Linked DNA regions of Homo sapiens. The protein of the gene in region 1 purifies or fractionates together with the protein of each later gene. This does not show direct contact. Each region holds a gene or a part of one and is shown in the gene's direction. Other genes may lie near its edges. The genes, in order: SYT11, PDLIM5, ZBTB20 and TTC1.

The links.
Region 2: the proteins of SYT11 (region 1) and PDLIM5 purify together in Homo sapiens (affinity purification with mass spectrometry; 2 studies listed by BioGRID and IntAct, with this or other methods). This does not show direct contact.
Region 3: the proteins of SYT11 (region 1) and ZBTB20 purify together in Homo sapiens (co-immunoprecipitation; 2 studies listed by BioGRID and IntAct, with this or other methods). This does not show direct contact.
Region 4: the proteins of SYT11 (region 1) and TTC1 purify together in Homo sapiens (affinity purification with mass spectrometry; 4 studies listed by BioGRID and IntAct, with this or other methods). This does not show direct contact.

What each region holds. Positions count from the first base shown.
Region 1 is NC_000001.11:155,855,558-155,862,566, forward strand, and holds the start of SYT11 (synaptotagmin-11), read left to right. Parts: upstream 1-4,009; 5' UTR 4,010-4,204; coding exon 4,205-4,238; intron 4,239-7,009. UniProt on the Homo sapiens protein: Synaptotagmin family member involved in vesicular and membrane trafficking which does not bind Ca(2+). Inhibits clathrin-mediated and bulk endocytosis, functions to ensure precision in vesicle retrieval.
Region 2 is NC_000004.12:94,650,457-94,658,523, forward strand, and holds part of PDLIM5 (PDZ and LIM domain protein 5), read left to right. Parts: intron 1-4,003; coding exon 4,004-4,184; intron 4,185-6,970; coding exon 6,971-7,091; intron 7,092-8,067. UniProt on the Homo sapiens protein: May play an important role in the heart development by scaffolding PKC to the Z-disk region. May play a role in the regulation of cardiomyocyte expansion. Isoforms lacking the LIM domains may negatively modulate the scaffolding activity of isoform 1.
Region 3 is NC_000003.12:114,331,222-114,339,288, reverse strand, and holds part of ZBTB20 (zinc finger and BTB domain-containing protein 20), read left to right. Parts: coding exon 1-284; 3' UTR 285-8,067. UniProt on the Homo sapiens protein: May be a transcription factor that may be involved in hematopoiesis, oncogenesis, and immune responses. Plays a role in postnatal myogenesis, may be involved in the regulation of satellite cells self-renewal.
Region 4 is NC_000005.10:160,046,719-160,054,785, forward strand, and holds part of TTC1 (tetratricopeptide repeat protein 1), read left to right. Parts: intron 1-2,795; coding exon 2,796-2,944; intron 2,945-4,410; coding exon 4,411-4,465; intron 4,466-8,067.

The sequences.
Region 1 (7,009 bases):
ACTGAGTATTGATACTCAATGTGTCACTGAATATTGTAGATACTCAATGAATGCTCCCTGAATAATAAATGAAACAGAGGTTAAACAACTTATTCTGTGCAGCATTTGGGCCAAATGTTAAGCATTATATAAAAACTGATAGTGGCTTGGTGCAGTGGCTCACGCCTGTAATCCCAACACTCTGGGAGGCCAAGGCGGGCGGATAACAAGGTCAGGAGTTCGAGACCAGCCTGGTCAATATGGTGAAACGCTGTCTCTACTAAAAAATACAAAAATTAGCCGGGCATGGTGGTGGGCACCTGTAGTCCCAGCTTCTTGGGAGGCTGAGGCAGGAGAATCGCTTGAACCCGGGAGGTGGAGGTTGCAGTGGGCCAAGATCATGCCACTGCACTCCACCCTGGGCAACAGAGGGAGACTCTGTCAAAAAAAAAAAAAAAAAAAAAAAAAAAAGGCATCTTATTACCCAGGAAAACTTTACTGTCATAAATAGATCCAATAATAGAATAAGCCGCCTTGTGTTAGATCACTGGCAATGTTCAAGCGAAGCCTGAATGTCCACTTATCAGAGTACTAGATGAAAGCCTGAACTAGAGAACTGAAAAATAAAAGTTATTTGTAACTCTAAGCGTCTAAGGTTAGATTTCTCTTTCTTCTTTTCTTTCTTTCTCTCTCTCTCTCTTTCTTTCCAGAGACAAGGTCTCGCTCTGTTGCCCAGACCGGAGTGCAGTGGCAAGATCCTAGTTCACTGCAGCCTCAGACTCCTGGGCTCCAGTGACCCTCTGGCCTCGGCCTCCCGAGTAGCTAGGACTACAAGGCACTTGCCACCACCCTCAACGACTTTTTTTCTTTTTTTTTTTTTGTAGAGACGGGGTCTCGATTTGTTACCCAGGCTGGTCTCAAACTCCTGGCCTCAAGCGATCCTCCCGCCCCAGCCTCCCAAAGTGCTAGGATTAGAGGCGTGAGCCACCGCGCCCGACCTACAGTTAGTTTTAAACCTCCCTTCTGTTTCTCCAAGACATTAGGGGAGATTCTCCATCCCCTCAATCAACTGATGTAATTAAAACTCAGTAACTAAAGCTCAATAAAACATGAAGATTTCGTTGATTCCTGTGAGAGATGGTGGTGACCTTATAAGAAATAGAATGGGAGTAGCCAGGGCAGCTCTTTTATTTCACAGATAATTACTGAGATCAAAAAAAGGGGAAAAAAAGAAAAAGAAAGAAAGAAAAAGAAGGAAAGAAAGACAGCTACTTCAGCTCCAGGCACCTCAAACACAGCAGTAGCTCGACAGAATCCACTTTTTTGGGAACCCAAGTCGGACCAGCAGGGTGAATGAATGCCAATGTGGAGGCAGCCCCGGCACGGCCCTCTCCTAGGAAAACATTTTCAAAAGGGGTCCTAACCGCGCTTCCACCTCGGTGCCCAGGGCTGGCTCCAGTCCCCATTCCCAACTAGACACTGGACTTCACGCCCTTAACTTCCGCCACGCACCCAGCGCCCACCCTCAGACCCGACCTTCTCAACCTGGACATCGTTCGTCCAGGTGTCCCAGCTCCCACCTGCCTCTTCCCACCCCACCACACACAAACCTGTACCCTCACCAGCCGGCCTGATTCCACGGAAACGGCTTTGGCACCACCGGAAGTCAGCCAACAACAGCGAATTGCGTGCGCGTCCCCGAGCCTCGGAGCGCCGCGCCGCAGTGCATCAAGGAGCATGCGCCTAACACTATGCGCCATCCCATTTTAGGGCAGAGTGAAGCCACAACGTTAGTGCGTCAGTTATTGGCAAAAAAATTTAAAGGCACTACTTAGCTTTCTCTGCCCATGGAGTTATCCTACTCAAAACTGAGGTTAAGATTCAGTGGTTTAGATTAACAGCTAATTTGGGGGCCAGGCGCGGTGGCTCACGCCTGTAATCCCGGCACCTTGGGAGACGGAGGCGGGCGGATTACCTGAGGTCGGGAGTTCGAGATCACCCTGGCTAACATGGTGAAACCCCGTCTCTACTAAATATACAAAATTAGCTGGGCGTGGTGGCGCACGCCTGTAATCCCAGCTACTCCGGAGGCTGAGGCAGGAGAATCGCTTGAACCCGGGAGACGGAGGTGGCAGTGAGCCGGCATCGTGCCACTGCACTCCAACCTGAGCGACAGTGAGACTCTGTATCAAAAAAAAAAAAAGATTAACAACTAATTTTTCTCACTACGAGTCACCTGGAACACAGGACCAAGGGACTGAAGAAGTCATAAAATGCCAGAAAAAGAAGTCTCTAAATTACAAATAGTGCAGGCTCCTGATTAAAACTAAGGCACTCTTGGACTCAGGCTATAGTAATTATTCATATATGTACAATATTCTGCATTTTACAAAATGCTCTCACATTTTCTTAGGTGACTTGGTCTCCACAATAGACTGTAAGATTATTATATCATATTCCAGTTTGCACAGGACAAAGTTCTGGCTCATCTGAGTAGGTGATTTCACAACGGTACACAGACAGCTATCAAGGAGAATCAGGTATTAAGTCTCCTAACTCTAGCTAATAATGCATTGACCCAGTGTCCAGGAGGCTGCCTGGGGTGTAACAGATGTTCAATAATTCAATACGTGCTTTTTGAATGAGCGAATGAATGAATGACTTCTAAAATGATGTTATTTCCACTTTTCTAGAAAAACAATGTCTGGAATCCACGGAGATTAAAAAAATAATAAAAAACAGAATGTCAAAAGGTGGAAAAATACTTTCAACCCCCTCATTTTACAGGTAAACCACCAACACAAATTTATACATTTGAACTAATCCTATCTGTAAACAGAATCCAACGGATGAAATTATCCACAGCCAAAATGAAGGTTGAAATTTATGCAAACATGGCAGTAGTCTGACTAACCTGAATCACACCAACTCTCCCAAATACCAAGGAAGACTCCAGAAGCTCGGAGTTTCATGTGTGTTGTTCTTTGACCTACAGAATACACAGATCTTTCGGTTTGGCCTCTCTCATACGAAACCCTAAGCACTTGAGGTTCATGAAAAAAATTCAACACTGATTAACTTTGGCACTTTTCATTAGTTGTTTTTTTTTTTTTTTTTAAACAGCTTTGCATACCACAATATCCATCTGTTTTACGTGTACAACCAAATTTTTTTTTTTTTTTTTTTTTCAGACGGAGTCTTGTTCTGTTGCCCAGGCTGGAGTGCAGTGGCGCGATCTCGGTTCACTGCAACCTCCACCTCCTGGGCTCAAGCGATCCTCGTGTCTCAGCCTCCCAAGTAGCGTGTGCCACCACGCCCGGCTAATCTTTGTATTTTTAGTAGAGATGGGGGTTTCACCATGCTGGCCAGGCTGGTCTCGAACTCCTGACCTCAAGTGATCTGCCCGCCTTGGCCTCCCAAAGGTTTGGGATTACAGGCATGAGCCACCGTGCCCGGCTGTTTTTTTAAAATTAGTAAATGTTCAGAGTTGTGCAACCATCCCCAGGTTTGGTCTTTCATCAGAGTTTCTGAGGTTTAAGACAGTTTCCATCCACTGTGAAATATAAGCCAAAAAAAAAAGTTCTGTAATAACCTTTAGCGGTCTCAGAAATGCATAATGATGGCAGTCGATACTGAAATCCAGGCAGTACAGAATTTTATTTTCCCAAAATTCTGGAACTCAGGACCGAGAACATTTTGCTGCTGTATTAAAGCCCAGAAAACTGAAATCAGAGGATTTCATATAATAATCTACCTATGCTTCTTACCCTTCAGTACTTTCTCGTTTTGGAACCACAGCGCGTCAGTGGGCGCGGCCTCATTCTCGGGAAAACTCGGCGGTGGGAGGAGTCCCCTCCGGGAGAGCTTCCTGAAGGGGGCGAGGGCTGACTTCCGTAATCTTTCGGAAGAGGCGGAGTCTTCTTCCGAGGACCATTCGGAAGAGGCGGAGTCTTCTTCCGAGGACCATTCGGAAGAAGGCGGAGCCTACCTCTCATCAGGACCAGTCTGACTGCACCTGCATCCTTAGCTCAGCGCATCCCCGGAGCATCTTAAGAGCTGAGCGCAGCTGACAACTAGGGGCCGGACCGTCGCAGGAGGCGTCCGCTGGATACCTTCCCCCTTCCCTGACCTAGAGCTCTACAGCTGCTGCCTCGGTACTGACCGAGGGTTCCCAGAGCTGTCTCACCATTGCAAAAACGTTATAGCAACAGCCTCTGATTACGACATGGCTGAGATCACCAATATCCGACCTAGCTTTGGTAAGTAGACTCGGGAAAACTAAGCTTGAGGTGGTCAGAATGGTTGCAAGGCCAAGGGGGCCCAGCGGCAGGGCAGAGAATGCAGCCCAGACCAGAGCCTTCAAAATGCCAGCCCCACTAAAATCGGGCCTGTGGTGGTGGGTAGTGGGTAGTGGGCAGTTGACAGTGCATGAACTTGAGCTATGGGCTGCAGGGACTGGCAGGGCCTGAGCCACACCGAGGGTGGGGAAGTCCAGGATGCTAAAACCTTGTATGGTGCACTGTCAGCACTGCTGGAGGTGAGAAACAGCAAGCGTGCGGAGGATGTGAACCCCTCCTTCTGGGGGAGGAGAGGTGGGGTAGGCCAAGCCCTCCCCCTTGGGGCACACAGGGCGGTGCCCCTTCCTCCCCCTCCCATTCCTAAGGGCTGCGGGGGAGGGAAGTGACAAGGGGGATGGGGCATCAAGATGGCAGCTTGGAGACTGTGGGCCGTGTGGCTGGCAGCCAGGGGAGGCGGCGGCCTCTGGGGAAAGAGGGGTGCGGGGTGGGGAGCAAAAAGGAAGCCACTCCTTAAGCCGGTCAGCTGGATGCTGGGGCTAGGAGGAAACGTGAGCCCTGCAAGCTCCATTCCGCATCGTAATGGTGGGGTCCCTCCGATGCTACCAAATGGCGCTTGGCGCTGCTGGGCTGGGGGATGACGTGATGTCTATTTCTGGGCCTCCTGGCAGCGCCGACGCTCTCCTTCCGGGGCCTTTGTTCCCTGTTTCCCTGGGCCGCCTTTTCAAAAAGGGGGACTGACCAGCGTTGATGCTGGCGGGGGCGCGATCCAGGCCGGAGGGGGAGGGGCGAAAGAGGCCCAGCCCGGGGGAGGCCGCTTTGTGTACCGCAGAAAGCATTACGTCATTTCAGAGCGGCTGGTCCCCGACCCAGCCCTGTGGGCTCCAAGATTAGTTTTACACTCTCTGGAGCAGAAAGTGGAGTGGAAAATAGGGAAGAAGGTGGCAAAGACAAGCTTGAGAAGGAAGTTTTTTCCTCTTTGGGGACTCCTGCAGTATATGCTAAAGGAGCAAACTTCCTGTGTTATGCTTTCCTGATCAAATAAATAAAATATAATTGCCCTGCTTCTCCTTGATTCAGTTTAGATGGGGGAAGCCAGTGAGAGTTGCTGCCAAAGAACCTTCTTATTCCTTCAGGGATTCTATCCCTCAGACAATCCAGTAGGTTTGAGCATCGGGACTCCAGTTTTTAGGGTGGAGACACAATCCAGCTAGGAAATGGCTTTTCTCATTCCTGAATAAGAGGTACAGTGAAATGAGCAGAATCCAGTGTGCTCTATCCCCTCAGAATAAGGAAGAAGAAATCAAATCAGATGTGTTCAGATAACTGATCTTCACACTCATTAACTACTTGTTCTCACTTATTCCACAAGGCTAAATCTTGATGGTATTTTTTCTTCCACTTCACCTTCCGCATCTTTATTCTTTGAGTTCTAAGTTTCCAAAACAAAAGTCCCTTTCATGATCACATGAGCAATCCATGATTTCTTCCTGTTCTTTTTCTTCTTATTCCCTTCCAACAGATTCCTTTCTCTAACTGCAGTTCCAGAATCCTTGAAAAAAGGAGATGGTGTGGAACATAATATAGTGATTTCTCTTAGAGGGACTATTATTGGGAAAGGGAAAATAAATTATATCAGCCTGTTACATACTACATTTTATTTAATCCTAACAAATACCCTCGAGTGTATGTATTATTATATATACTTGCCAGACAAGGAAACCAAAGCTCAGAAATAAAATAACTTGGCTAAAGCCAAACAAATGACTAAAGGTAGCACTAGTTTGTTTTTGTTTTTGTTTTTGAGACGGAGTTTCGATCTTGTTGCCCAGGTTGGAGTGCAATGGCGTGATCTTGGCCCACCACAACCTCTGCCTCCTGGGTTCAAGCGATTATCCTGCCTCAGCCTCCCAAGTAGCTGGGATTACAGACAAGTGCCACCACACCCAGCTAATTTTGTATTTTTAGTAGAGATGGGGTTTCTCCATGTTGGTCAGGCTGGTCTTGAACTCCCGACCTCAGGTGATCTGCCTACCTTGGCCTCCCAAAGTCCTGGGATTACAGGTGTGAGCCACTGCACCTGGCCAATGCTAGGATTTAAACCAATGTCTGGCTGAAGCCAAAATTTATTCTCATTCCATTGTATTATATTTGTCTACTTGACTGCGAAAAGCTATGTTTAGGAAAGGGGGTGTCAATAAAAGCAGTTCTGGTCAGAAGCTGAAGGAGCTGGCCAATAGCCCAGATGTGTCTTGCAGGTCTTTAAACCATTACAGAGGATCTCCTACATAGAGAACTACCACTTCCAACTTTTTCACATCTCATAGAGTACTTCATTTCAAATGCCACAGCACTTGGGTGATACACCAAGCCAACACTCAATTATCCATGACCATGAAGGACAAAAGGAGCGAGAAGCACAGGTCACTGCAATTTATAGCTACTTTAAAACACTCACTTCAGCCATTAGTTTCAACTTCCATTTCCCACCAAGCTTTGGACTAAAGCAAGACAGAGAGCTCTAGGTTTTAATATCTTTGATGATTCTAGCTCATTGTCTTGGTTTCAGGGAGAGAGGCAAGAGTTAACAAATACTAAAATGAAGAAAGAACAGCAAAAATAGGAAACAAGGCCAGGGGGAACAACTAGATAATTCAAAGATGCGTTCATCTGTTTCTCTTCTTTTCCTTCTCTATCCTCCTGGAATATGAGAATTCTTCATCTTCTCTCTTTTC
Region 2 (8,067 bases), on another chromosome or scaffold:
TGTTTTTTACTTCTATTGATACAGTAATTTTCAGTCGAATAAAATCTGTTGTGGTTGGGCTTTGAAAAATTCCAGTATTACAGTTAGTTCGTCATCCATATGATCTTAGGAAAGTTGGCTGATTTCTCTGACGTTTTCTTCATCTACACGTATATGAAAAAGTTAATTTCTGTCATTGGGATTATTGTGAGAATTAAATAACAAAGAGCAGCAAAAAATAAGCATCAGATTTTGAGGCTAAATCCCAGTTAGGTTGTGCCTGTTGAAATCTGAGTTCCTTTCACCTTTGTATTTGTAAGCTTTCCTTTTTCTCTGAACTCTTCCTTGGCATCCTTCCCTACCTTTCCTTTCTTCCCCCCACATGCCCCGCCTTTTTGGATAGGTCTCACAGAAGATAAACAGGGTGAAAAGTTTCATGCCGTAGCTCTTCTCTCACAGCCAACCAAATGCTTTAAATCCCTCCTCTCCCTCCATTTGTCAGTCAACATGTACTTAGTAAGGGCTCACAGGACATCGAATACTAGAAGAGATAGCTGAATACTTAATTCCACTCTGCAGTTATCTAGGCCTGTCATTCCTGTTCACAAATGGAAACCCAATCCTACCTGGAACAAGAAGAACTTCTTTAGTGTTAATCCTGTGTTAATGAATTTGTTAAATTAGTCTTTGCTGACACAGAGAAGAAAACACTTTGCTATATGTGAAAGATTAATTTTATTGTTTAATCTGTGCATAATTTCAAGGGCATTGATGGAGAAAGATGCTCTTTCAGGACAGCCAAGAAGTATCAAGTTAGGCCAGTAGTTGCCCTGAGCATGCTTGTTTAAGAAAGGAGATCTGAGAGGAGCAAGGGTCATTTTCAGCTTGTTTTTTAAAGGTGCAGTGGGAATTTCTTTACTGTCTAAAATTCCTTTTGCTATTTGAAAGGAACTAATGAAATATTTTAAAGTCATCCTTTTAATGGACTGTAGTTTTAATTTATGTATTTATAGTGAACTATATTCCAGCAAGTTTGTAAAAAGACTTTTACAGGTATGTGAAATATAAGATAATCTTATAAATTACAAAAGGGGAAAAAGAATGAAATTCATCGATAGGCTCGTTAAAAATGAAGCTAACGTCGAGACTGGACGATACTAAAATAATGACCTGCCCACTTGCCTCTGGTTAGACTGTAAATCTGGCTTTAGGCCTTCTAGTAGTCTACCAAAAATGAAAGGTAGTTTTGCAATTTACAATAAGATAAAAATAAGACTACTGCTGAGGAAAAGCATAATAGTTCTTGCTGCAGAAATCAGGGAGGAATTTTTCTGAATGAGACCATGTGAAAGTGACGCTGGATGAGATCTAACAACACTCCAGCAACAACTTGCAGGAAGAGCAAGGGTGAATTTCATAGAGCTGTGTCCTGTAACAACTACCAGTACAGGTTCATGTATCACAACAAGCACCGTTCATAAAAGGAATAATCCTGCGGGGTGCAGCAGGCCCAATATGCTGTGATTCACAGAACCCAGTTTTCTGATGATCTGACTTGAACTCAATACATATTTTAGAAAATCTGGCAAATGGAATGTATTTTCCTTGGTCAGTTATTCTTAAATGTCTTTTTTTCTTCTCAGATGAACTTTGTCAAATATTTGATAGCATTGATAGACATGTTCCAGGAGCAGAGCTTTTCATTTTGTTCCAGGTACATACCAACACTTATGCTTTAACAGAATGCAGTTTGAAGTTGGATTGACTTCTTTGAAAACTGAGAAGCCAAATAAGAATACTAGCCTCAAGAGTCCTCCAGCCTTATGGATGAGCTAAAGATGTGCCCTAGTAAAAAACTCACCCTAGTAAATGGCTTTGAATCTGTTTTAATGTGCAGCCAGAGAGTAGCATGAAACCCCAAAGCTCTACCATGCTCTGTGTTATGGTCACAGTAAATTGAGCCTGGAAGATTTTTCATGCGTGTATAACCAGTTGCCCACCTGGCGGAAAAACACAGGGCACTCATCAAACTTTGTCTGGCTTTGAGCAGTGTGATTCCTGGTTTATCTTTGCTGATAAACTACTTGCCAAACATACACTGAGAAAATTAGATGAAGGAACTCGTTGAATAGGATTGTTATTTTATAAGTCAGTTGAAAATGATGGACCACTTACCAAAAGTAATATATTCGATTACAGAATAGGTGATCTGTAGCCTTTCTTTTCTGGCAGGAATTAGTAAACAAAGGCATTCCTTATTAGTCATAACAAAATTATGGTACCCTAAAGTTTTAAAAATAATAATAATAAACTGCCTATCTCAAACTTAAGAGAATGATATGTACTAGCTTATACAAAATGGCATCATGTTATTAATAAGAAACAAGTTAACAAAAAGTAGGGCTAGAAAATACCCTCTTACACCCCACGTAAAAATTTTTAATCACTCATCAAGAGCCTTTCTCCTTTTGTGACTCTTGCAGAATTAGGTGCTGATTCTGAGTAAACATCAATATGGTGACAAAGAATTTACAGTGGGAGATAGTTATTGAATAGCAAGGTTTATGTTATTGTCAGAATTTTAAAAATGCTGTGACTTTGCGATACTCATTGCTATGACTTCTCCTGTTAATAATCTGCCTGGAAGTCTGGTGTCTGATGCTTACCAACAATTACCATGTGGTCGCTTAGGGATGATAAGTGATGTTAATGAGGTCAAAGGCAGAATATCAGTTGACTAGAGCGGCATACTAGAAATCAGGAAATTCAACTTCTGGCCTTGGCTGGGTCAGTGATTTTATGATATTTGTCATATCTTTTGAACATTCTGTACCTTGGCTTCTCCATCTGTTAAACTGAATTCATAATAACTGTCCTGGTCTGTCTCACAGGAATGTTGCATGGACAAATTAGATAAGTGTAAAAGTGCCTTGGAGGTAAAGCTGCTCTATGAATATAAATTAGTGTGATATAGCTACTGAAAAGTATGTTGCAGAGGCTAGAATGGTTAGTCTCTGCAGGCTTCATGACTAGATAAGGCTTCATAATGGATTCCTGCCAAGCAAACCAAGCCCATCTTATCAGTTCATGACCATAAAGTATTTAATGGGGAAAAAAATCTCTTACAAACATTTGTTACCTTGATACAAATGTGTGTTAAAAATCGGTCATGTTGGGGAGGGGGGAGAGGGAAGTTGGTGCACAGTGGGTATAAAATTTCAGTTATACAAGATGAATAAGTTCTAGAGATCTGCTGTACAACATTGTGCCCATAATTAACAATACTACATTGTACTCTTAAAAATCTGTTAAGAGAGTGGATCTCATTTTAAGGGTTCTTACCACAATAAAATTAAATTTTTGAAATAAATCAGTCATATTTGAGTGAAATGAAACCTTTCTGAGTAGTTTCAGACAATTGATAATACCTAGTTTACAGTTCCTGTAGTCATTTTGGAGGGTGAGGACTTGATGTGTTTAGTAAAGTTGAGAAATAAATACATGAAAGAATGTGTGGGGAAGAGAAATTGTGGGGAAGAGAAATTGTCTCAGGTAATAGTTATTACTATTTTTAGCACTATGACTTACCAAATTGAAGTTTTTGTTTGTTTCTTTTGTAGAAGTGTCAAAGTCTCATCTCTGCCTAAACCATATATTTTTTTCTGGTTGCCTCATGTTCTGTCACAGTCACAGTTAACATCCTCATTCTCAATCCTACCCATGATGCAGACAGATTGCCTCATTTCAGCTCAATAAAACATCACCAAATTCCCTTAGGCAGAAAAAGGGTGGGGAGTGCCCTTTCTTGAAGGAATCCCTTAAGTGCACGTCTCCCGTTTTCTTTTCACATCAATGCAGAGTCCCTCTGTGAATTTACAACACCCAACACCCATGAGTTCAGTCCTTAAGAAGGAAAATTGAGCAAGTATTTAATTGGTTGGACATTGCATAAAAGAGGTCCATATCCAGGCTAACTCTAGAAATTTTATTCTCAAACTTAGTTGGCCTCTTTTTCTTCTGTCAGAGGACCATTCTTAGTGGCACTGGGGAAATCTTGGCACCCAGAAGAATTCAACTGCGCTCACTGCAAAAATACAATGGCCTACATTGGATTTGTAGAGGAGAAAGGAGCCCTGTATTGTGAGCTGTGCTATGAGAAATTCTTTGCCCCTGAATGTGGTCGATGCCAAAGGAAGATCCTTGGAGTAAGTATTGGAAACGTTTTTATTCTGAATGAGTTTTAAAGTAGAATAATTTTTTGATATGAAAGTCTTCTATCACTTTAACTTTTTATTTTCTTCTTGCTTTATGCCCTCTCTGCTTTCGGCACTATTTATTATTGTAAAGCAAAACTAAATAGACCTCTGTGGAAATATATCGGACTCATGGGGTTAGGTTGTCTTTGGTTTTGTCTCACTGAGTGCTGGCTTGTCTGGTGAAAGTCTAGCCACTGTGGGGAAAAAATAATTTACTGTGGGTGTGCTTCCTCAACAGGAGCCTGTTTGCTCAGGAATGAAGAGGTCGCATAGGACCACACACATCTGAGTTCTTAGAACTGACACCTTCACTGTTTTAAATTAAATTCCATAGCTTTTATAAGAGCAGTATTTCCCTACTTGTCAGAGTTCAAGCACAGGACACTGATTTCATGAAATATATAAAACATGAGGTTTATAAATGATATATTTTTCTTGAATACATACAGTGTTTAAAAATATAACCTCAGTTTTATGAGAGTGCACATGTGATGGAAAAATAATTTTTTTTCCTTTTTTGCAAAAAAAGGAGTAATTTAGGAATCAGATACAGTACATAATAAATAATGAATACATGAATTTCTTGCTCTGGAATACCTAGTTTCCAATGATAAAGTAAGGGTCAGGCATACTTTATGGTGACTAGGAGCTGGAATCTGATTTCAGAAGAAGCCAGAGTACCTGGCTTCACACAAAAATTGGACATGGCCCTGCTGAACTCTAATATACTCTCAATGTGAAAATATGATAATGAAACTCTAATTATTGTTAATTGAGAGAATAGGTAGTATGAATTATTGAGTAGTCTTAAGATATCTCTTAGGATATCCTTAAATATGTCTGAAACGTTGAAGACACTTAAAATTATATATATGTCACCTGAAATATTTCTAGATTATTGATTTGTGTAATATGTTGGGAACAAAGAAGTGGAATGGTTCAGACTGTACCTTCCCAAATGATAACAAATAATTAATAGAATATTCATTAATACTGTTTTAGTGTATCAAGGTATTCTATAAATGTTAGAATAACAAAACAAAGTGAAGTTAGAGTCTTAGACCCAAATAAAGTTCTGGGAAATGGAAATCTCATACTCATTGCCTTGGAGATGGGCCAGAACTTCAATAGCTTGTCTAGATTGTATTTTAGTTATTTGATTACCTGTTAAAGATTTCTCTCAAGGATGGAAAGGGAAGAATATTCTGGAAGCCTTGGGAGATAGTTTGATTCAATATACATCTTCTACAAATGTTCATGGTGAATTTTTTGGATCTAAATGTCTGTTTCTTCCCATTGTCCTTCAGTAGTGAACTGTGACAATTTCTATGGCTAATAAGTCTATATTATTTCATTTTATTTTGATATTTTTTATAAAAGAAAATAGTTCACTCAAGCACAATTAGAAAACACAAAAAATTTAAAGAATAAATTTAAATGACCTAAATATTTACCAATCACAGATAATTACTGTTAACCTTATGATGTGTTTTTTTCTAGTTTGCTCTTTATAAGTAATGTGTTTACAAAATTGTAATCATGCTTTATGTATATGATTTTTTGTGATAAATATTATAGAAAGAGTATTCACTACTCATCCAAAATTATTTTAATGGCTCCATCTTTCTCTCAATCCAAAGAAATGATTTCTTGTAAAACCAACACCCAAAACCTCTTTTACTAACTAATATCTGGCCCAAATCTTTATAACTTGGTATGTTTAACCATTGGGCCATTGCTGACTAGAATATGGTCCAAATTTTACACATTCGAGTCTGTGCTTAGTGCCATCTTAGCTGATTTCCAAAAGCCTAAACACGTGTTAAACTGATTGGATTACATTATATTTTTATTATATTTTATTACATTATATACATTTATATACATTATATACATGTAATATATACAACTATATATAATTATGTATATTTTATTATTTTTATTTATTTATTTATTTTTTTGAGACGGAGTCTTGCTGTGTCACCCAGGCTGGAGTGCAGTGGCGCGATATCGGCTCATTGCAAGTTCCACCTCACGAGTTTATGCCATTCTCCTGCCTCAGCCTCCCAAGTAGCTGGGACTACAGGCACCCACCACCACGCCCAGCTAATTTTTTGTATTTTCAGTAGAGACGGGGTTTCACCGTGTTAGCCAGGATGGTCTCGATCTCCTGAACTCGTGATCCGCCCGCCTCGGCCTCCCAAAGTGCTGGGATTACAGGTGTGAGCCACTGCGCCCGGCCCCATTATGTTTTGTTATTAAATTATATATATTATATTATTGCTTCTAAAATGCACCAAAGTATAGGTTTGTTTTAATTTTTAAATGCTTCCTCCTTCCCCCAGAACTTTTGCAGATAATACCATAAAACCTTGGTAAGTTAATGTTTCCTGACACCCTTTGAGAAGAAGCAGAAAGTTTTGTAGCAAGCATTTATGAAATGCTTACTTTATTCACTGTACATATAATGTATAAATAACATAGTGATCATTCTTTAAGTTTATTGATTGGCATTTGTAAAGAACACACGTCTAAATATGCATCCGTTTAGATGATTTGTGAGTCTGTTCTTAAGTATCTCTTGTTACTTTGAGGGAAAGCTCAAGACAAAAATGAAGTATGTGTGCCTACTTTGGATTAGCTCTACAGGGATTTACTGGTACAGATATTAGAATAAACATTTATGTATTTATTGTCATCTTCTTTTTTTACATCCAATTACCTTTCTGTAACAGGAAGTCATCAGTGCGTTGAAACAAACTTGGCATGTTTCCTGTTTTGTGTGTGTAGCCTGTGGAAAGCCCATTCGGAACAATGTTTTTCACTTGGAGGATGGTGAACCCTACTGTGAGACTGGTAAGATCAGGGAGCCATTTGTTTCTTGAATTTTGAATAAAGGTAAAACATTAACCCTTATATTACTATAAAGCTCAAGAAAATATTAGGCAAAGTTATTTTCTTAATTGTTTTGGAAGCATTTAATGCTGCTCTAAGCATGTAGAAAAAACTATGTAGATTTTTTTTTTTCTTTTGAGACGGAGTCTCACCCTTGTTGCCCAGACTGCAGTGCAATGGCCCAATCTCGGCTCACTGCAGCCTCTGCCTCCCAGGTTCAGGCGATTCTCCTGCCTCAGCCTCCCGAATAGCTGGGAATACAGGCATGTGCCACCATGCTCGGCTCATTTTGTATTTTTAGTAGAGACAGGGTTTCGTCATGTTGGCCCGGCTGGTCTCGAACTCCCGACGTCAGGTGATCCACCTCCCAAAGTGCCGGGATTACAGGCATGAGCCACTGCGCCTGGCCCTATATAGACTTTTTAATGTGACTTTGTCAAAACAGATATTCCCAACTTTATTATTAGAATTGAGAATGTAAGCATTACTTAGTAGGAAAAATATTTTGCTTGAATTCCCAATGATTTGTGGATATAAATTCTACTAAATCATGTACCTTAAGTCCACTTCTTGTAGTCCAGTAGTGAATTTTGTAAACATCAGAAATGTTCCACTTTAGAATATGATATTGATTTGCCCTTTAAGGCGACTGCCTTGAAAATAAACTGGAGATCGTTTGTTACTTTTACTGAATGAGAAGGTAATCCTGACTTGGATTGTTCCCTTGGTAAAATGATTTTTAATAAACTAGACTAAAAGGACCTATCTACTGCATTTGTCTTATTACACAAACTCAGAACGTTTCCTTTTCCTTCCCAAAGTCTGTAAGTGAACTTTTATAACATTTATTAATAGTGCCCTTACTTAGATATTACTACCACATATACATGTTTCAAAATACAAAACATTTTTCCTTTATTGTGCCTCTATTCACTAC
Region 3 (8,067 bases), on another chromosome or scaffold:
CCCTCAACGTGCACATGCGCCTCCACCGGGGAGAGAAGTCCTACGAGTGCTACATCTGCAAAAAGAAGTTCTCTCACAAGACCCTCCTGGAGCGACACGTGGCCCTGCACAGTGCCAGCAATGGGACCCCCCCTGCAGGCACACCCCCAGGTGCCCGCGCTGGCCCCCCAGGCGTGGTGGCCTGCACGGAGGGGACCACTTACGTCTGCTCCGTCTGCCCAGCAAAGTTTGACCAAATCGAGCAGTTCAACGACCACATGAGGATGCATGTGTCTGACGGATAAGTAGTATCTTTCTCTCTTTCTTATGAACAAAACAAAACAACAACAAAAAACAAACAAACAAAAAAGCTATGGCACTAGAATTTAAGAAATGTTTTGGTTTCATTTTTACTTTCTGTTTTTGTTTTTGTTTCGTTTCATTTTGTACTACATGAAGAACTGTTTTTTGCCTGCTGGTACATTACATTTCCGGAGGCTTGGGTGAATAATAGTTTTCCCAGTCTCCCTCGGATGGTGGCCTTAAGGCCTGGTAGTGCTTCAAGAGGTCCACTGGTTGGATCTCTAGCTACTGGCCTCTAAATACAACCCTTCTTTACAAAAAAATCTTTTAAAAAAAAGTAAAAAAAAAAAAAAAATTTCCACTTGTGAAGAGCACTACAAAAAATATATAACAAAATCTAAAAGGCCTACTGTCTTTAAGTACACCGCTTGCAGTGTTTCAGTGGACATTTTCACAATTCTGGCCGCTTGGACTTCACAGTAACCAGTTAAAACTGTGGAATATCACTTCTGGTTGAAAACCCAGAGGAAAGGCCCTGCTGTTTTCCACCTACCACGTTGTCTGATTTCATAAAAGGGCTGTGGGGGTGGGAAGGGCAGTGGGTTCGGTGGTGTGGGAAAGAAAGACGAATGGCAGGCTTCTTCCCCAGATTCTGCCCGGGTCCACACACCCTGGCCCACCTTCTCCATATCCCCCTCTTGCAGCAGAAGCCAGGAAGACTTGGACAAGCAACAAGCAACAGTGGCTATCGTATTTATTCAGTGTCTTCGCTGAGCCACAGCCTCAGCACAATCAAGAGGGACTTTCATGAAAGGCAGGAATGCAGATAAAACAAAGATATCAGAAATTTGCACCTATGTTTCTAGGTACAAGAGAAGGATTATTTCCAACAATCTTTGCAAAAAAAAAAAAAGTGTCAGGATATATTCTTGTGGAAGAGAAAAAGAAAAAGAAATGGAGGGTGGGGGGAACAATAAAAAGTTCTTGAGGCTTTTTTAATTCAAAATTTTATAGAGGGGCAAAAGTGACGTTTACCAGATAGAATGCTGATTTTTTTAATATATTTACAACAGTATTTGTGTAAAAAAAAAAACAAAAAAAGTGAAATTGTTAAAAGTAATTTTTTTCATTTTGGTTTTGCATACACTGCCACCAATTCCTTCTCTTTTATTTTATTTCACACACATATATATATTTTTTGGTAAGTCAAGACTGTTAAGGTTAGCGATACTGCTTCCAGATAGAAAGAATAAAAGGCAACTAAAGTTATATTTGAAAGAGAGGAAGGATATTTTCTTCATATTTTTTTTAATTTTTCTTAATTTTTATTATTTTAAGTATTGCCTGGGTTGATGAGGGCCTCTGTGGCCAGCCCATCCCTGCTGTAATTTGAATTGCTGCTTTGTATTTTGATATGTAGTTCTTTGACTTTAGCAAGCTTAAGTTGCCCCACTGAATAATTTTTTCAACTGATTCATCTAGAATTCTGTTCTTTTTCATGGAAGAGACTTTATCTTTCAGAAAGAGATTGCTTGCTTCTCCAAAATTTCATTGAGATCTTACAATTCTAGAATTTCTATTGACTTTACTTTTTTTCTTAGTGAAACACTAATAGTCTAGAAGTCTTGATAAATGGGGTCTTTTCTTTTGTGATCAGCCAGGAAGAGGAGTTCACAAAACTCTGCCATAGCTCCTCACCCTTCCCAACTACAAAGAGCATCATTATGAGAAGCCTGTTATAGATCAAGATGCATTGATGCCAAAATTACTTTTTTCCTTCCAAATATCACCTTCTGACTGTTTCCACCATGGTTAAGAGGGCTGAATAAGATGATCATTCTTTAGATGACGAATTAACCCTTGCTTCTTCGAAAGGTTTTAGGGAAATTAACAAAAAAATTCCCAGATGCCAACAGCCACCATTCAAAAGACCACCAATCTATTGCATCATACCAGATGCCACTCTCTCTTCCTAGTAGGGATTTCTCTCCTCGGTCCTGATCAAGGTGTTATAATAGAGACATTTTCATTATAGACAGTGTCCTGAAGGGATTCCAGCTCAAATATAGGAATTCTTAAACCTAGCTGAAACTCCCAAAGTGATTTCATTGCTGGGCATATTTTAACATACTTAGGGGAAAGCAAATCTTTAAACAAAGCAAAACACCAAACTACAGTTTTAAAAAGAAGAAAGGAGAGCGTATTTTAGTTTCAAAATTACATTACATTTTAATTTAATTTTCCTTCTAATTTTCCTGTCAGCATTTTATTTACAAAAACTGTGCAGCAAACGAGGGAAAATCTTCCAACACAAACAACTCTGTAATGACTAAATTGGTTTTATTCATATATTTTAGACATTTGGTTAACTTGGATCTTTTTCATAAGTTCTTTGTGATGCTTTGTAAGGTTAGTGTAACTGAAGTGTTTGTGAGTTTGATTTGGTCCCACAGTGCTTAATTCAGTGGATATTTTGCTAGAAGTTTTAATGTAAACTTGGGTGGTTAACTGACTATTAAGTGTAACCTATTGTGATTTCTAAGAGGAGTCCTGCCAAGAACTGTATGTCCAAAACTGATCTGTTTTAACAGTTAGTGAGGAACAGCTTCCGAGATAAAGTAAGTTCATTTTTCTATTGCTAATTTTGCTTTTTAAAATAGCAGTGTTGTAAGACTAATATTTCCACTTACCACCAATAGAGGGAGCATTAATTAACTATGTCATGGAATTGTTTTGATATTTTGGAAAACAAGTGATTCCACCCATAAAATGAAAAGAGAAGATTGACCTTAAGAAAAAAACTCTTAAAGCTAGGAGACAATGACATGAAATCACTCAATACATGTTACAAATGAAAGAAGGCCAAAAGCCACTTTAAAATATTTTAAACTGTTTCACAGTAGATTTGAAAGTGTCTTTGTTCAAATTTAGCAAAGTAGGAAGAATTTTCACTAATACCGCCTGAAAAGTTGATCTTAGGTGCCATTATGGGCCACGTGTAGCTTTCTGTTTCTCAAATCTGAGAGAGACCCATTTGCCTTAATGCTGATTTGCCATGTAAAATGCTAAGCAATTGGGTTAGAATCCACCTTTTCTTTTGGTAGAACATGTAGAGAAAAAGCTGCAGGTGACTTGAAACCCTGAGGAGTCTATCATCCTTTCCCTGTAAAGGAAGTGTCTCTTAAAAAAAAGGGAGTGGGGGAGGAGGTGGAGGATCCCTAAAGAATTCTTAATGAGGTGATATAATCATTGTAGTCCATGACAAAATGGACCAGCCAGGTTTGCATAGCAGTAGACATATTCCTACTGTACATTTATCCTTCCCAAATATGTCACATTCTAAAATAGTTGACAAATTATTTTGTGGAAAGAGGAAGAAGCTGGATTGGAGTGGGAGATCTAATCTGGAGGAGCAAAGAGGTAGTTGTTTATTGCTATGTTCCTGGCCCATCAAATGGCCACTTTCCAAACTGACCCACATTTTAGGAAATAAACCAATCTGGACCTGTTTCAAAAGGATAGAGATGCTTTTAGATTGTCAATTCTCACTTTTAAGTTAAACAATCACAAATATCTTTAGAAATAGGGAAAGACATTTGCTTCAAAATCAAAGAATGAGTGTGGATCTTTTTAATTTTTTTTTGTTTCAAGTCCTACAGTCATCTTACATTTAGACCTTCATGGTAGGGTGATATGAGTGCTAAAAAAATTTCTTTCTAGTAGCCAGGAAACAGATAGATAAGATAAAAGCAAATGTTCCAGATTTAAGACTTCTTAGGATGAGTACAAGGAAGAGAGAAATAGTATGGAAAGGACATTTTTTAGCAATTTATAATTTTAAAATGGAATTTGCCAAACAAGGGAGAGGAAAAAAAGTCAAAGGGGAATTTTTATCTCAAGATATTTAGATATGGTTTATAAAAAAATAATATTTTCTACCACTAAAAACACTGGTATTATCTCAGCATCATGGGCAATTTTTCCTTATTACATGCCAATATTTGTACAAAAAAGGCCCCCAAATGTGTGAAATATAATCCTAAAAAAGAAAATAATTGGAACACATGGATCTGTTACAATTCTACACAGGGGGAAACAAGCTAAGCAAAGAAAAAAAATCTGAAATGAAAATCTCTGTATCAAAATGGTTTCCTGTATCTTTTAATTGAGAGGTAAACTTTAGCTCCTAATAACAGTTTTATAGACCGTTCTCTTCCCAAATTCCTAATGCTTTGAATCTATTTGTGCCATGATTAAGTGTGCTGGATAATTTCCTGCTCATATTCTAGCCTCAGTTCATTCCTAGTCATCTTAGAGATCATAGTAGCTCTTGGCCTTAGAAAGACTTGGGTTTGCTGTGTTTAAAAGTCATAAGGGTTTTATTTTGTATCATCAAAATATTCTATAAGGTCCCAAATACTCTTTTTCAACCCATGAACAGTAAGAATTTGTGAATTCTGATAATGAAAAAAGTTTTCCTCCAGGTATGTTTGTTTCACATTCAGTCCTAAAGCCTTGAGCTATGTGTACTTCCCTCACACAGGAACACCAGCTGTCCTGTCTGTGCTCTGCCTGCGCCCAAAACTCAATATTTTCTCTCAGCACAGAAGTCAAAAATGAGATATGCCCCTTATAAAACCCCTTCGATTCCTGAGAAAACATAATAAAGCCATATGTTGCTTCCTTGTTGGGGCTCCTCCACAATGCTCCCAACACCTGTGACCCCTAGGAAGACAGGGAGCAAGGTGGATCTGGCCAGGAGTCACAGGATATACACCCATTCTGGAGCTTTCCTCTGTTGTTCTAGAAGATGTTATTTGATTAGTTGGGGCTGGGAGCAGGGGATATATGATTTTGTGGAAAAGGTATCAGATAATCAAATCAGGTCTGCCTCTGCTATAGCCAGTGTGCTGCTGCATTAAAAGGGAACAAAAGGAAGGTGCAACGTAAGAGCAGACACAACCTGAGATGCCCTTGAGATTTAGGAGAACAGGAGGGCGCCCTTTCTGTTGTGACCTGACTCTTAAAAGAAATCTTCTAAAAGAATTCTTTAATTTGGTAATGAGTTGAAGTCCAGGGTAATGGAAGCTCTAGGGCAGAGAACAAAAGAATTGCAAAATGTATTCAGCACCAAACAATGCTAAACCAAGAAACATCCAATCACAAAACTAGGAAGTTTGGCAAGAAGTGGTTAGAGAAATCTCTGGGCTTTTCCATGGGCAGGGTCGACAGACTCTCTTTTCAGTGATTTCTGGCTCTGAGAAACCTCTTTACTCACTAGAAAAGAACTTTATTTAAATGGCCAATTTTGTTCCTCAGAAAAAGAAATTAAAAAAAAAGAAAAATAGGATACTGAAGACAGAACCATGTGACTTGGTGACAAACAAAAGGAGGGGTGCACTAGAATTTCAATAGGCTCCCTAATTCCATAGAAAAAGCAAAGCAACCCAATGCCTCCTGAGCCTGCAGTGCATGAAGAGAGTGCTTGAGCTGACCCAGCCACCAGGCCTTCTGGGGCTAGACATAACTTCCCACTGGAACAGCAGCAGCCTCTTTCCCCTCTTTGTGTTTTCATGAAGAAAACGGCTGTTCTCTTAGGTAGCCAGGAAATAGATTACATGGGGCAAACTTTCAAAAGCAATCTCTACCCTGGTGCTCAGGCTACATACAGAGGCAGAAAAGGGGCACGGAAGAGCCCTTGCTCTTGAGAGAGAGTATTTTCATATTCCCAAGGGCTTTCCGTGTAGAGTTGCTATTTCTGATATCACTTAAACCTTTACAAGAAAAAAGGCTGTGGTGACTCAGTGTTCCTATAAATTCAGAATGTGGAAACTACTAATCCAAAGCATCATTTCTAGCACTGAGTATCAAGACGATCAGCCTGACCAAAATATTGCAAAGAGTTTTCTAAGTCTCTGAAGATTTTTTTCTCCTTGAACACTGAGTCTATAGCAGTCAGCAATGTACCTTAGCCGATCCCTGGGAATGGTTATGGAACAGTAGGGCTTGTTTCCATCCTTTTTAGAGTGAAGAGATAGAAAATTAGGGCTACCTAGTGTGGGTTCTTTTTCAGAACTATGTATTTTCTCCTCACTGCATGATGGGTAAAAATGCCCTGGGTTGAAACAAGAAACATTATCTTTCCACACCACTGACTAAAACACCTGCCAGTGGTTTCTTTAGGCTCCACCTTTTGCTCCGTAAACTGTAGACTTTCAGACTGAAATCTAATCTTAAGTGACCTCAATTAAGGTATTTTCACAAAAGGCTACTTATAGTGTAGCATTATTGCCTTAAATCAGAAAGCCCTGGGAAGAGGATAAAAGATATAGAAATGAGAAGGCTCTGAAGTTATAGGCATTTCTTGCTGTTTAATAGTTACATTATCACAAAAACAAGCCCTATTCATGATTGAGGACTATGGAAATAGTGACTTCTTGAGGAGGCACCAAACTTTCCTAGAACTGGGTACTCTCAGATAGTGGCTGCTATTTCCTATTCTATTTCAGTGACGTAGGTTGGGGCTGAATGTAAAATAGACATCATATTACTAAATAGAATCCTATAAAATGCAATCACAGGTGCCCGGGAGTACTAGTTTTAAACATTTCCTTAACAAGGAGAACAATCCAGCAAAAAGCTTTCTTTCTCTATACAGTGTATATCTCTAAACTTTTTTTCCTCAGTTTTAGAGAACATCTGTTTTATCTGGTGGTTCTTTGTTTGAATGCAAACTCATAACTTTCAAGTCTCCGGTGCAAGAGCATAATCTACAGATCATGGGCAAAATCTAGCCACAGTCCTGAGAGTCCAGGCTTCTGGGATGCCCAGCTGGGTATAAAAGTCCCTACTAACCCTGTTTCAAATTCAGAGGTTTCTTTGGTTTAGAATGCCTCAATGAGATTTTGATACATCCAAGAGAGAAAAAAAAAAAAAAAAAAAAAAAAACCTTGGGGGCATCTGTTTCTACTAGTGTTGCAACAGTTGTTTTTACCCAGCAAACTCATTGCAATTTATATGTAGATTCTAATAATGAAAGAGTCTTAACCCATCCAGTATGTCACCGCTGCTGTCCAAAATGTCTATAAATGAGTATACATTATTTATACATGTGCACACACAGTGTGAGCTTCCCTCAGCACAAAACTGTTTCACATTCATATTGCCCAGTGACAACAAGATACATTTTTGAACTTCTGGTTAGAAGTCGAAGGTCTGACATATCTCACGTATCTGCTTATGCTTTGTTGCCTTAGTTGGGTGCATCAGTATCTGTGATGAGACTTTAGGGCATTCTGAAGGAGCCCAACCATCAGTAATTTCTATGTATCCGTTTCATGAGAAACTTGAATATGCTTATGTGGAGTAGAGTGCATTTAACAAACTCTACAGTTCTATTGGATTTATTGACATGTGTGCACATGTGTGTGTTTGTGTATATACTTATTGTCATCTGGAAGTGTGTGTGCCCCCCAAAGGAAGCACACACAGGCAGAGGTCCTCGTGCATAGATACAGTTGCCTCTTCCCACCATTGTGTTTAAGACTTGTGGCTCCCTTCCCAGGAAGCAGTCACCTGCCCACTCTGTTGCTTTTTGTAATGTTTCAGAATTGGGAGAAACAAATGCAGCTTGTTGAATCCACAGCAAACCCACAGGGACAGGCTGTTTTCCTCCATAATAAGGTATAACAGAAGTCTTCAACTGGTGAGCAGACAAGAGGGAGCAGCAGTCCAGGGCGTCTCCCCAGGTCTCCTGGAGGTGGCAGGGGTGGGGACCAATGCCAG
Region 4 (8,067 bases), on another chromosome or scaffold:
AATTAGAGCAACAGGCCGGGCACAGTGGCTCACGCCTGTAATCCCAACACTTTGGGAGGCTGAGGCTGGTGGATCATGAGGTCAGGAGTTTGAGACCAGCCTGATCATTATGGTGAAACCCTGTCTCTACTAAAAGTACAAAAATTAGCAGGGCATGGCGGCACGTGCCTGTAATCCCAGCTACTCAGGAGGCTGAGGCAGGAGAATCACTTGAACCTGGGAGGTGGAGGTTGCAGTGAGCCGAGATCACGCCATTACACTCCAGCCTGGGTGACAGAGCAAGATTCCGTCTAAAAAAAAGAAATTGGAGCAACAAAAATGCAATTAAGGGAAACAAAAGGAGTATTTTCATAAAGATAAAAGCCAAAATTCATGAATTTTAAAATATAAAACTAATAAATACATGCCATGTGTATGGCAGAGTTTCTGTCTTCAACTCTGACTTCTACCCTGTAGTCTAGTGTCCTGTATCCCACTGCAAAGTTCTTTCTTCTTGGATGTCTGGTAGGCACCTCAGATTTAACGTGCCCAGCCCCCACACACACACAAAACTTGCAGTTAGTTTTTTCCATTCTAATAAATGACATTACCATCTGTCCCCTTGCTTAAGTTAAACCTTTGGAGTCATCCCTGATTGTTCTTTCGTGTCACATGGCTAATTGATTAATTAGCAAGTTCCATGGGCTCAAATTTAAAGACATATTTAATGTAATCCGGCTGCTGTTTTCCATCTCTACTACTTCCAGCTTAGACCAAGCCAACATCTTCTCTCATCTGGACCACTGCATTAGCTTTCCAGCTGATCTCACAGCTTTCAGTCTTGCCCCACCCGCCAACACTACAGCCAAAGCAGTCCTTCAAAAATGTAAATCAGAGTATGTCTGAAGCTTGCTTGAAAACTTTCCAGTGGCTTCTCATCACACTGAGGAAAAAGTCCAAACTCCTTTCCCTGGCCAGGAAGGTCCTCCATGGCCCTACATTTCAGCCTCTGATCCCCAGCCTGATAACTCACATGCCAGAGTTATTCTTGTTGGTCCCTCTTCCTGGCACGCTCCTCCTTAGCCTTTCACATGGCTGGCCTCTCTCACATAGTCCCTCTTCATATTCTGAGACCACTTTCTGAAGTTACCTCATTTCTCGCTTCACTTGTATTTCCATGACCTTGTTTTATTTTTCATTATAGTACTATGGCTATTGAAATTATATACCTGTCTGTTCTTGCCTACTAGAATAGCATAAGGCTTCATGAGAACAAGGACTGTGTCTGTCTTGTTTCCCACTATAGCCCAGAGACATACTACATTGGACGTATATATTAAGTACTAAATAAATGTTCACAGAAAGCATGAATTTAAAAATTAAGGATAGATTATGAGAAAAGAAAAAAGTTCTAGAGCCAAGACATTGCTTTTTTTTTTTTTTTTTTTTTTTTTTTTTTTTTTTTGGGACAGAGTATTATCTCTCTGTTGCCCGGGCTGGAGTACAGTGATGCAATCGCCACTCACTGCACGCAACCTCCGCCTCCTGGGTTCAAGTGATTCTTATGCCTAAACCACCCAAATAGCTGGGATTATAGACCCACACTGCCACGCCCAGCTAATTTTTGTATTTTTAGTAGTGATGGGGTTTCGCCATGTTGGCTAGGCTGACGGTCTCAAAGTCCTGACCCCAATTGACCTGCCTGCCTCGGCCTCCCAAAGTGCTGGGATTATGGGCCTGAGCCACCACACCCGGCCAGCACTGCTTTCTAATAGAAAAAGAAACAACTTGGAAGAAATTAGAAGAAATGCAGTATGTTGAACCAAAACATAGCAAAGGATTATTAGAAGGGCAGCTGATGCTGGATAAAGGAAAAGATATTATGCATCAACCACCTCATAGTGCTGGAGCAGTAGTTTGAGGGTTGAAGGAACAGTGAGGATTTAACTAGAAATATAATCTTAGTACTCAAGACCTAGAAAAAAGAGAATGATAGTCTGCCACCAGATTGGTTTCCCTTAACTCTTTAATTTGTATCTTCAAATTCTCTCTCACCTAGCCTGGCCAACATAATGAAACCCCATCTCTACTAAAAATACAAAAATTAGCCGGGCATGGTGGCGCATGCCTGTAATCCCAGCTACGTGGGAGGCTGAGGTAGGAGAATCGCTTGAACCTGGGAGGAGGTGGTTGTAGTGAGCCAAGATCACACCACTGCACTCCAGCCTGGGTGACAGAGCGAGACTCCGTCTAAAAAAAAAAAATTCTCTCTCACTCTTTCACTGCGCACTTGAACTCTGTTCTGGCCTGTCCTGGACTGGGTAAATGACAAGTAGGCAAAAACCAGGACTTGGAGTATAGACCAGGATATGGCAAACTACAGCCACAAGCCAAATCCAGCCTGCCACCTGTTTTTGATAGCCTAAAAGCTAAGAATGGTTTTTACAGTTTTAAATCATTGGAAAGCAAAATATTTCATGATAATGTGAAAATTATGTGAACTTAAATTTTAGTGTCCATAAATAGTTTATTGGAACACACCTATCCTTTTTTGTTTACATATTATCTGTGCCTGCTCTCGTGCTACAATAGTATCATTGAGGAGCTGCGACACAGATGGTCTGTCTGACCCACAAAGCCTACAATCTTTACTATCTTGCTCTTTATAGAAAAAGTTTTCCAGCATCAGGTATACACTTGGCAAATGACTCTTCCTTTCGTATCCTTGGAGGATGATTGATGAAGGAATCTGATATAGCCAAAGATATGTAGGCCATTTTTCTTTGTGATAAAAATTATTTCTTCTCTTTTTACAGCAATTCAATTAAACCCCAGCTATATCAGGGCAATATTGAGGAGAGCAGAGTTGTATGAGAAGACGGACAAGCTAGATGAAGCCCTGGAAGACTATAAATCTATATTAGAAAAAGATCCATCAATACATCAAGCAAGAGAAGCTTGTATGGTAAAACCTAAAATTTTAAAAATATTTTTCCTTCTATTCTTTGTGTTGCTACCCAGTGAGTCCTAAATAATCCTTTCAGACACAATTAAATTCCATTTCTGTGCTTTTGAGGAGCTTATCAAGATATATGGGAGGCCAGGCGCAGTGGCTCTTGCCTGTAATCCCAGCACTTTAGGAGGCCAAGGAGGAGAGATCACTTGAGGCCAGGAGCTCGAGACCAGCCTGGCCAACACAACAAAACCCCATCTCTTCTAAAAATACAAAAAATTAGCCGGGTGTGGTCGTACACATCTGTAATCCTAGCTACTCGGGAGGCAGGAGAATTGCTTGAACCCAGAAGGCAGAGGTTGCAGTGAGCTGAGATCATGCCACTACACTGCAGCCTGGGCAACAGAGAGGATCATTGAGCCCAGGAGTTGGAGGCTGCAGTGAGCTGTGACTACATCACTGCATTCCATCATGGGCAACAGAGTAAGACTTTGTATCTTAAAAACAAACCAACAGGCTGGGTGCAGTGGCTCACGCCTGTACTCCCAGCACTTTGGGAGGCCGAGGAGGGCGGATCACCTGAGGTCGGGAGTTCGAGACCAGCCTGACCAACATGGAGAAACCCTGTCTCTACTAAAAATACAAAATTAGCTGGGTGTGGTGGCACATGCCTGTAATCCCAGCTACTCGAGAGGCTGAGGCAGGAGAATCGCTTGAACCCAGGAGGTGGAGGTTGCAGTGAGCTGAGATTGCGCCACTGCACTCCAGTCTGGGCGACAGTGTGAGACTCTGTCTTAAAAAAACAAAAAATACAAATGAATTTAAAAAAAAGTTAAAAATACAAATATAGCACTGTAAACATCTGATATGTATCCTTTCAAACTTTTTTCTGTATATATTTATTTGTTAAATTTGTATTGATGCCCTCCTTTAGTGTAGACTTTCTATTAAGAACTGGAAACAGAGCCAAACAAAACTTTTTTTTTTTTTTTTTTTTGAGAAAGGGTCTCTGACTCCCAGGCTGGAGAGCAGTGGCACAGTCATGGCATACTGCACCCTCAACCTCCCAGATTCAAGCAACCCTCCCACCTCAGCCTCCTGAGTAGCTGCGACTACAGACACATGCCAACACACCCAGCTAATTTTTGTATTTCTTGTAGAGACAGCATTTTGCCATGTTGCCCAAGGTGGTCTCAAACTCCTGAGCTCAAGCGATCCTCCCAACTCGGCCTCCAAAAGTGCTGGGAATATGGGCAGGAGTCACTGCACCTGGCCCAAACAGAACTTTTGTCTTTATGTAGCGCACCACAAACATAAATACTTGGGGTTTTTTTTTTTTATTTAATAGGATCATAGACATACTTAACTTGATCTTATTTCCACATTAGGATTCTTGTGTTTCTCAAATTCAAAATAAAGGGAAAGGTTTTGGTTTTTTTTTTTTTTTTACCAACCCTTGTTTCTCCTCTTTTCCTCAGAGATTACCTAAGCAAATTGAAGAACGTAATGAAAGACTAAAAGAAGAGATGTTAGGTAAGCTTACTTCTTACTTTGCTTGATCATAAACAGCTAGGAACCTAGGGTGGGGACATAGCGAATACTAGAGGAGAACACATGAGTTAGAAAGTTTCGGACTCTACCACAAGGCTACTGACTTCTGAGTTATTTTGACCCCAGAAGGGGCAGCGTGGCTTAGAGAGGGTATTGGCTTTTTTTGGAAACCAGATTTCCTTTTTGATTTTCTTGGAAATTTTTCTTGCCTGCAAGAATTTAAGCATAATTCAGTTCCCTGGGATTATGCTTAAATGGGATTTAAAATCCTAGGATACCACCAACCTCGATTTCAGATAACAATTACATAAAAACAGTTTAGTTTCTTCATTGAATAATCATTCCTTGAGGTTCATTAGGATGCAGTCAAGATCATGAGAATTTTTATTTAGAAAATGGCACTCAAAGTCCCTTTAGTGTTTGAGAACACACGAGAGGGCAGGAATTAGGAGTAAAGAGAAATCAGACTGGGGGTAGGGGTAGGGCAAATGGATTCATTTGATCCATGTTTAGTTATTTCTCATATTTGCCAAAGCATTTTAGAGTTGGAACCTCCCACGAGCAATCTGCTTAAGTAAGAGGAGTGAGGGTTCCTGAACACAGACTTAAGTCTTTTCCACATGTAACCTGTCTGATATTTCGCTGGTGAAGATCTGCCATGTATTTTCCTTTTTGAGTATTTTCTAAATCTGTTGTTTGAATTACATTTTATAAACTGCAATCATGTGGCCCTAAAGGAAAAATCATTTAAAATAAATTGAGCCTGTCTGGCATTTATGGCCTTCAGACATCAGCATCCAGACAATGGGAACAAATTTCCCAAAGGATCATTCTGATAGCCAAGTTGATTGAGAGGAGGCCATTAACCTAGACTATCCAGAGACTTTGGCCCCTGCCGGGTAGACTCAGACTGTAAAGACGGCTGCTTCCGATTCAGGATAGCTCTGGAGCCTTCCCCAGATTTTCCAAAAAAGGGAGGGGGATGGGGGAGCTTTTCCCCTAATTTACATATTTAATTAAACTTGGCCAGGCACGGTGGCTCCTGTAATCCCAGCACTTTAGGAGGCCAAGGTAGGAGGATTGCTTGAGCCCAGGAGTTCAAGGCCAGCCTAGGCAACATGGTGAAACCCCATCTCCACAAAAAATTAGTCAGGCATGGTGGCATGTGCCTGCCCATAGTCCCAGCTACATGGGAGGATCACTTGAGCCCAAGGGTTAGAGGCTGCAGTGAGCTATGATGGTGCCACCACACTCCAGACTGGGCAACAGAGCATGACCCTGTCTCAAAGAAGAGGGAAAAGAGCATTTTCTCACCTATTTTTACTAACAATGATGCTCTATTTTAGCAAAAAAAAAAAAAAAAAAAAAAAAAACTGTTTGCATTTAGTATTTGAATTTCTTGCTAAAAAAGATGACCTTGTGAATGGCCATAGTGGATCTGGAAGGCATTGGTCTCTTAGTCCATTTTTTTAAAGCCAGTCCAGTAAAGGGACTGGTGCAAACTGAATCTTACTGCCTATTGTTAGTTCCAGATGGAATTAAAACTTCCATTTGTCCTTGTCTTTATAAATTCTAATGCACCAGAATTTTCTGTCTCCAAGGCTTTGGGTTTTTCTTATGTCATTCTCTTCATTTGAAAAAATTCAAATTGAATTCATTCCCTCGGTTGCTTCTAAAATGAATTCACCTGCCATTAGACTTAACCAACTTAAGTTGCTTTGTAAATAATATGTGTTGTTACACATGTGTAGTTTGAATGGCTAGATTCCTTTTTTCCCTTAATGAGTATAAAAATCATGAATAAGATACTGCTCTAGGTGTTACCCCACAATAGATAACCTAGAAGAGAGAAATCACTCTTTACATGGAATTTCAGCCCCCACAAGAGCTTTTCTGGTATTCCTTCCTCCTTGTTGCTGATGAGGTAACTTTGGTTCATGTTCTGTGAGATTCCCTAGAGGCTAGACATTCTGAATGCAAATTAATATCACTTAGAAGTTCTGAGCAAGCTTTTCACAGTGGACTGCATCATCTTTATGCTAGTTCCTGTTAAAATGATGGCTTCTATGGAGAATAAGCAGTTAAAAATTTTTTAAATTGGGTAGTGTGGGCTGGGTGTGGTGGCTCACACCTGTAATCCCAGCAATTTGGGAGGCTGAGCCCGAGTTCAAGACCAGCCTGGGCAACATGGCAAAATCCTGTCACTAAAAAAATTAGCCAGGTGTGCTGGTGTGCACCTGTAGTCCCAGCTACTTAGGAGGCTGCTGTGGGAGGATCACTTGAGCCCAGGAGATCGAGACTTCAGTGAGCCACAATGATGCCACTGCACTCAAGCCTGGGTGACAGAGTGAGACCTTGTCTTTAAAAAAAAAGAAAATTATAAAATCAGGTAGTGTGATGCCTATGCCTGTAGCTTTTGTTCTTTTTATTCAGGATCACTTTAGCTTTCAGAGTCTTTTGTGGTTCCATACAAATTTTAGGATTTTTCTATTTCTGTGAAGAATGTCATTGGTGTTTTGACAGGGATTACATTGAATCTGTGGATCACCTTGAGTAGTACAAAATGGGTTTTTATTTAGATGTGTTCAGTATTCTTTAACTTGTTTTTTCTTCCATCTCTGTAATTTCCTTTTCATTAGAAAGAAGAGCTATGTACTCCTTGAGGGAAAAAATCCTGATAGGAATTATTAGTGGGTAGAACAATTATTTGCTTTGCCCTTTCTAGCCCATCATTTATAATCTTTAGAACAAGAGACCCAGGGTGGCCATTAGTCCTAGTGGCACAGTCCTTGCTGATCACAGAAGATGATCGTGATAGCATCAAGACGATCACTTGAGGAAAGTGGTCAGCAGCTGGAGTGGGGGTTGGTTGTTTTTGTTTGTTTGTTTGTTTGTTTGGTCCTTTTCTCTGGGATAATTAGCCTCCCAGCCATAATAACCAAGGAATGTAAGGTTTAAAAGGACTTAAGGGTATGTGTGGTTGATAGTGTGATGAGATGGAAATAGAGACCCTGGACATAGCATCCCAGGAGGCTCAGAGCATTTTTGAGGAGCTAGTCATTGATGCTTTATTTGCTTTCTCTCTAATGGAATGATTTCACAGTTTTCTTAAATAGCTGGGAAAAAAGTTGGCTGGGTACAGTAGCTCATGCCTGTAATCCTAACATTTTGGGAGGCCAAGGTGGGAGGATTGCTTGAGCCCAGCAGTTCGAGACCAGCCTGGGCAACATGGCAAGACCCCCATCTCTGCAAAATCTTTAAAAATTAGCCAGGCGTGGTAGCACAAGACTGTGGTCCCAGCTACTTGGGAGGCTGAGGTGGATTGCCTTAGTCCAGGAGGTCAAGTTTGCAGTGTTACGATGGTACCAGCCTGGGCAACAGAGCCAAGACCCTGTCTCAAAAACAAAAAAAGAAAGAAAAAAGAAAAGAAAAATCTCATGTGAAACCACAATATAGAAAAAAAAAAAGTAGCGTTTTATATAAATTCAAATGTACGGTATAGCATTTATAATCAGAATAATCAGGTTAGTTTGAGGAACATAAAGATTTGAAGTCAGGTTTCATATGGCAGACACGGCCTTTAT